Linked DNA regions of Homo sapiens. The protein of the gene in region 2 purifies or fractionates together with the protein of the main gene of each other region. This does not show direct contact. Each region holds a gene or a part of one and is shown on either strand. Other genes may lie near its edges.

Region 1 (3,135 bases), on a different chromosome or scaffold from region 2:
AGTCTCTCCCAGCAAGTGCACAAAAGGATGGCTGTGCCAAGAAGTCCACATCCCAATCCCATTTCCTGGCTGTGTGACTGGGGACAAAGCACTTGCCCTGTCTGAGCCCTGGCATCATCATCTATAAAAGATGGCTGAGGTATGGAAGTATCTTTGTGATGAGGGACTTGATACAAATGAATCAATAGCCACAACAATGTCAGCAAATACTTACATAGTGCTTACAATATATCAGTGTGGTTCTAGGCACTGCACGTGAATTCATTCATTTAATTCTCACAACACCATTCTGAAGTGAGCACCACTGTAAGCCCCAATTTAAAGGTGAGAAAACTAAGGCACAGAGAGGTTAGGTGACGTGCCCCAAAATCACACAGCTGGAAGGTAGCAGAGCTGAGATTTGAACCCAGACAGCCTGGCCCCAGAATCCAGGCTCTTTAACCATTTCACAAAGCTGCCCACAAATAGCCTAAAGCTTATCTGTCACCAATCAAGGGCTCTTCACAGGTATTATTTCTTTTAAGTATCCTAGCATCTCAGTGAACAGGCATTACTATTTCCACCCCCAATTTTCACAGACGAGAAAAGGGAGGTTGAAGGAGTTCCAAGGACATTCTGAAGGTGACATAGCCCCTGTCCTCTGCAACACCCCCCCACCACGCTATTCCCATACTCCAGTCCCCAACCCAGTTAGTTCCTCTGGGGCCATGCTGGGCTTGGGGCTCACCTGGAAAGTGGCAGCTGGTAGGTTAGAGATGGCAACATACTGGAGGTTATTCTGCAAGGTGTAGATGAGAGAGGGCACTGCGAGCTTGAGCGTGTCCACATACTGCACCAGGACAGCCTCATGGAGGAAGAGAACCAGGTGCTTCACGTTACCTAGGTGGGAGGAGGAGAGCCCTTCTTAGCACTGACAGCCATACATGGGGAACCCCTGAAGGCTGGGAACAGGCCTTGCTCCTGTGACTCCCCCATCCACCCTGCTGTCCAATCCCTGGAGGCTGGAATGAAGTATGTGATCTTGGTTTTCCCTAGAGTACAACCATGTTTCCAGCAAGCTTTTCTGAGACTCAGTTTAATGGCAGCAAAAGAATCAGCCATCCGTGTCTGCTAATCACAGAGCATGTCACTCATGTTAGAGCCTACCTCCCTGGCAGAGAGCCCCATTCAGGGAAAGCACTCAATACTCAATATATTTGTGTACAATGAAATAACCAGCATTAGGCCAGGTGCCGTGGCTCACGCCTGTAATCCCAGCACTTTGGGAGGCCAAGGCAGGTGGCTCATGAGGTTAGGAGTTCAAGACCAGCTGGGCCAACAACACTGAAACCCTATCTCTACTAAAAATACAAAAATTAGCCAGGTGTGGTGGCAAGCGACTGTAATCCCAGCTACTTGGGAGGCTGAGGCAGGAGAATTGCTTGAACCTGGGAGGTGGAGGTTGCAGTGAGCTGAGACCATGCCATTGCACTCCAGCCTGGGCAACAGAGTGAGACTCCATCTCAAAAAAAAAAAAAAAGAAAGAAAGAAATAACCATCATTAACTTGGAGCTTATGAAATAGAAGCCCTAGGAGCTGGGGTGGAGGGCTGTCTCCCACACAGAAGAGTTTAGTCTAGACTTTTTTTTTTTTTGGCACAGTGGCGCGATCTCGGCTCACTGCAAGCTCCACCTCCCAGGTTCAAGCCATTCTCCTGCCTCAGCCTCCCAAGTAGCTTGGACTACAGGCGCGTGCCACCACTCCCAGCTAATTTTTTGTATCTTTAGTAGAGATGGGGCTTCACCGTGTTAGCCACGATGGTCTTGATCTCCTGACCTCGTGATCCGCCTACCTCGGCCTCCCAAAGTTCTGGGATTACAGGTGTAAGCCACCACACCAGGCATAGTCTAGACTTTTAGACTTATCCTAGCTCCTCACTGACCCATGTGCCGTCTGAGGGCAGGGGCCATCTCCCCCTTGTTGCATCTTTCTGTCAGCCCTAGACACAGAGTTGCCTCTGCCACATGGATGAATGCAGGCTTGACCATTAAGCAGAAGTCCGCTTGGGACCTGCTCCAGTGAAAACATGATAATCGGGCTGGGCGCAGTGGCTCACGCCTGTAATCCCAACACTTTGGGAGGTTAAGGTGGGTGGATCACCTGAGGTCAGGAGTTCGAGACCAGGCTGGCCAACGTGGTGAAACCCCGTCTCTACTAAAAATACAAAAATTAGCCGGGTGTGGTGGCAGGCGCCTATAATCCCAGCTACTCAGGAGGCTGAGGCAGGAGAATCTTTTGAACCCGGGAGGCGGAGGTTGCAGTGAGCCAAGATCGTGCCATTGCACTCCAGCTCAGACAACAAGGGCAAAACTCCATTTCAAAACAAACAAACAAAAAACATGAGAATCATTTCCTATGTAACAAGGCCTTTGCAAAGCTCGCCCCACTTTTTGGCAGTTCATCTTTTTTTTTGGCGGGGCGGGGTGGGTGGGTGAGGAGTCTTGCTCTGTCGCCCAGGCTGGAGTGCAGTGGTGTGATCTTGGCTCACTGCAACCTCTGCCTCCCGGGTTCAAGCAATTCTCCTGCCTCAGCCTCCCTAGTAGCTGGGATTACAGGCACCTGCCACCGCGCCTGGATAATTTTTGTATTTTTAGTAGAGACGGGGTTTCACCATCTTGGCCAGGCTGGTCTCTAACTCCTGACCTTGTGATCCACCTGCCTCTCGGCCTCCCAAAGTGCTGGGATTACAGACGTGAGCAACCACGCCCAGCCAGCAGTTCATCTTTTAAGTCACAGCTGGGTGTCACTCCACAGGCAAAACTTCTTCAAACACTGAACAAGGTTGTCCCAGGAACTCCTACTGATGTTCATTCACCAAACCCTGTGCACTCCTGGTCTCCAAACTCGAATTCAGGGGAAAAAAATTCCGGGCAGGGGAGAGAGGGGTGCTGAAATTGTGGCTAAGAGATGAAGGCCTGTGATTAAGTCTGTGGCTATCTGTTATTTCCATCTTCCATCAGCAATGAGGACAAGCTGCTCCTCTGCATTGCTAACCCATCTACCCCCACGGCCTGAGGCAGTGTTCACACCTACACTGTTCACAGAGTTAACAAAGGTAAGAGCAGGTCTCTTGTTAACCTGGAGTTAACAGGTGGG
Region 2 (3,753 bases):
TGCAGTATGTGTGACTAAAATCATAATAAAAAAATCCATTTACAGCACAACAATTAAGTGATGAAAACCATGAGACCATCCTTGGACCCAAAACTAACATCACTACTAGTTTATCGTAAGTTATTCATCTGCTTTAAAATAACTTAGTTGTTAAATTGGGAGAAAATAGAATCTTTACAATGAAAAATAACTATCGAAAAATGCCTGACATATTTGGACAGCTCCCTCCTGATTTTCTATAGCATTTCTATTACGTGCCTTACTTTCATTTTCTCTGGTTTACCAAATCAGAAATGAGCCCAATCAAAGTGGTTTCTGCGGTTTGGTTTTGGGTATTTTTGTTGTGTTGTGATTTGTTTTGTTTTGGGACAAAAGATCCCTCTAGTGAAAGAGATTACGGAGCTACATAACAAGAAAAATGCTGTCCCCAGTTCAAGATCCGCCTCCCTGTATTGAGCCAATTTTTGTTTTACCAAAGCTGGCAGGCAGGGAGCTGATGTTCCACCTCCATTCCCTGCTGCAACCCCAACGCCAGTCAAGTACCGGAGCCTCGCCCCATCTGAGACAGTGGGGAGAGCTCCTTAGTATTGAGGTATTTCAAGAACTTTCCTAAGCAGATACTCCCACGGAGACAAGGAGCCACATAGAAAACAATCGCCAAGAGTAAGTTTGTGCGTCCTGAGCAGGGATGGAGAACCCACTGCACTGAACTACGGAGATTCGGATCTGGCCCAGTAGCACCATCCATTTGCAGCAGCGCAAAGAATTCGCCTTCTGCGGAAGGCTTTGCAGCACGGGTGGAACTCTCAACAGCTTTATCAAATAAGATAATCTAATATGAAACAAAAACGCTCTGGAGGCAGCTGGGTACCCTAACCTGGTTACTCTGCGTGGTTAACGTGTCCTAGGTCTGATGGACCAGACCCCAGCGGGCCTGAACTTTGTCGGAAAGCGGAGCCGCCAGGCATTTGGCAGCTGCCAGAGGCGCACCAGGCCGGGTCTCAACCTGGGAGGTCAGCGGGCCAAAGCGGCCTGGGGAGGCAGTGGCCCCACCTGGACGCCGGGCCGTCGGGCGTCGGAGCCCCGCTCTGCCTCCACCAAGCTGTCCCGCTGCGCCCTACGCCGCCACCAGGCAGGAGGAGCCGCTACCAGTACCTCAGAGTGGGACTCTCCATCCTCAAGTCTGCGCTCCAGAAAAGTGTAGCAAGCCTCCCACGCGGGGCTTCAGACACCTAAAAGTCGCCACTCCCCCAAGAGTAACCTCCACCCCCACCCCCACCCCCAACTTCTCTTTCCTCCTTTTCTTCAGCAATGTGGACCAACAGTTACTTTTCCCTCTCTTCCCTTCCCCTCCGAAGTCCCCGGGGCAAAGTGGGACTTTGGGGAGCCTCGTGGAACGCGCCTCTCCCCTGGCGCGCCAGGTCCACAGCTCCTTTTAATCACCGCAATAAAGTTCAATTTGCTCGGCTCTTTACGAGCCACGGTGGACTTTCCCGTGCGCTCCGTGCGTTCTACCTCCCGCCGAGCCAACAGCATCCTACTCACTCCAGCCCAGCTTGGGTCCTTGAAGGACGTCGGGCCACGCAGAGGGGACCCACTGTTCTCGCTGCAAAGTGCCCCAAGCCGCGCGCGCGCACACACGCATCCACATCCACACTCACACAATGCCATCCCCGCGCTGTCAAAGTCTGTGAGCGCGGAAGGGAGAACGCACCAGCTGGAGCCGCACGGGCGCGGGCAGTAGCACAGCCCAGCGTCGGGACACGCAGTCCGGGTCCCAACACCTTCGTCGGGATGCCCCGGCCACCACGCGCCTCGTAACCCCCAAAGACCACGCCAGCCGTCCCGGGGGCGTCGCGGGCGCTGCCGGACAGAACCTTACCCGCGGGGCGCGTGGTCTCCGGCCGCTGGGCTGGCGCGCGGGCCACAGGGACGCTGCAGCCAGGGTCCCGAAGATGCTGCTGCTCCGCTGCCGCTGCCCCGATCCCCGGCGCCAGCATCACTTCTCTGCCGCCCCCGCCTCCTCGTGCTCCGCTCTCTCGGCCGCCCCTCCCCGGCGGCCGCCTGCAAGACCGGCAGCGCCGGCGGCGCGGCGGGGTGGGCAGCAGCAGAGGCGGCGGCGGCGCCCGCGCGAGCTCGCCCAGCTGCACTAGCCGAGCAGCCGCGGCGGCAGCCGAAGCACCCGAGCCCGGCTGCGCTTCCCCGGCGATGGCTCTGGCCTCGGCGACTGACAACGCCCGGCAGCCAATCGCTGCCTCGCCCCGCTCGGCGGGGGGAGACCAATCAGAGCGGAAGGCCCAAGGTTTTCCTCCGCCTTTGCTCAGCGGGCTTGTTTCCGGGAGAGGCAGCGACGCTGCTGGGGTTTGGGATGGGGGAGGCGCGGGAGGGGCGCAGGATGGGGGACTCGTGGCCCCGGAGCCTTAGGTGAGGAGGGAAAGCCGGGCCCGCAGGGGTGGGCCTGGGGCGCTTTCTGACCGCCAGGAGCCCGCGGCTTGGCAGGAAAGGGCGCCGCGGGGTGACTTTGTCCCCAGAGCCTCGTCCCTGCGGTTCAGCGTCTTGGCATCGCTGGGGCGAGGGGGGAGCGGGGAGGGGTCGCGGGACCCGAGTACGAACGGCGCGGCTGGAGAGCGAATCCCAGGAGGTGGTCGCCGCCTTGAAGGAATCACGCGAACAGTCACCAGACAGCGCCCCCGTCCTTCTCCCTTTGGCAGCTGAAAAGAGTACTACTTCTTAGGCTTCGAACCACTCCTCATAGTAATCAGCCACGAAGTGTCCCCAGCTAGCAAAGAGGCACACGGAGAAATGTCGGAGTTGTAGGCAGAGTGGACCTTCCCCGTCTTCCCTCCAAATAAACGCCCCTCACCTCCCCACCCCAAACGCAACAAACAAACAAACAAAAAACCTTGAGAATGGGGAAAGATAATTTAAGCAGCCACCCTAATTGGTTGGCTTCCTTTTTTTCCTTTTTCTTTGGATAATCAAGTCTGAATGTTCTAATAGTTTTTTTTAATGTGTGTTTGACTCAAACACTAGCGAAGTAATGTTATTTAGCAATAAAAGAAAAAGAAAACAAAAGCCACAAAATGTTTTTCTGCACCACTCTCCCCTAAATTGTAATGATCTTCCCTTATGGAACATTTTTAGTTTCTTTAGTACAAATATGTCTGAATGGCTCAGAGTTCTACCAATAAGTTTATATTACAATGTTCTAGTAAAAAAAAAAAAAAAAGTTGTACATGAAGGTTGTAATAAGCTTGGGACCTTCCCAAAGTGACCCTCTGATAAATAGTCATACCCACCTCACAACGTTGTTGTGAGGGTCAAAAATCAAGTGTGTATATCAGCTACATAGTTGACAAATTGCTGGAATTCAATGTGTCTTAGCTATGATGCTGAAGCTCTTCTTGCTAATTGTATTTTTAAGGGATCCTTTTTGTTTGCAATAATAATCACCCTTTTCTTCACTTACCTTACTCTTTAAAAACTCCATATATCCTGTGATCACCAAAACAAACCCTGTCTAAATTTTATTAGCATTATGAGGAAAATTTGATTGCAAAATAGATGTGTATTGCCATCTTTTAGTACTATAGAAATTATGTGCATATCATCACTGTTTTTTCCAATTCTCTTATGCCTTCCTCCCCTTCAGTAATTTGACCAATGTAGTTTGGGAGCCAGATGATCTCTTCTTAAAAGAACTGGCTGTGCTAATAGATAAGTTCATTTTTTTAAAGGCTAAAAACAGAGAAT

Evidence for each region. Proteins that work in one complex are often made in the same cells at the same time.
Region 1: the proteins of B3GALT1 (region 2) and SLC35A2 purify together in Homo sapiens (affinity purification with western blotting, with the first as the bait; one study listed by BioGRID). This does not show direct contact.

Annotation. Positions count from the first base shown.
Region 1 is NC_000023.11:48,905,665-48,908,799, forward strand, and holds part of SLC35A2 (UDP-galactose translocator), read right to left. Parts: intron 880-3,135; coding exon 728-879; intron 1-727. UniProt on the Homo sapiens protein: Transports uridine diphosphate galactose (UDP-galactose) from the cytosol into the Golgi apparatus, functioning as an antiporter that exchanges UDP-galactose for UMP.
Region 2 is NC_000002.12:167,291,464-167,295,216, reverse strand, and holds the start of B3GALT1 (beta-1,3-galactosyltransferase 1), read right to left. Parts: upstream 2,217-3,753; 5' UTR 1,883-2,216; intron 1-1,882. UniProt on the Homo sapiens protein: Beta-1,3-galactosyltransferase that transfers galactose from UDP-alpha-D-galactose to substrates with a terminal beta-N-acetylglucosamine (beta-GlcNAc) residue. Involved in the biosynthesis of the carbohydrate moieties of glycolipids and glycoproteins.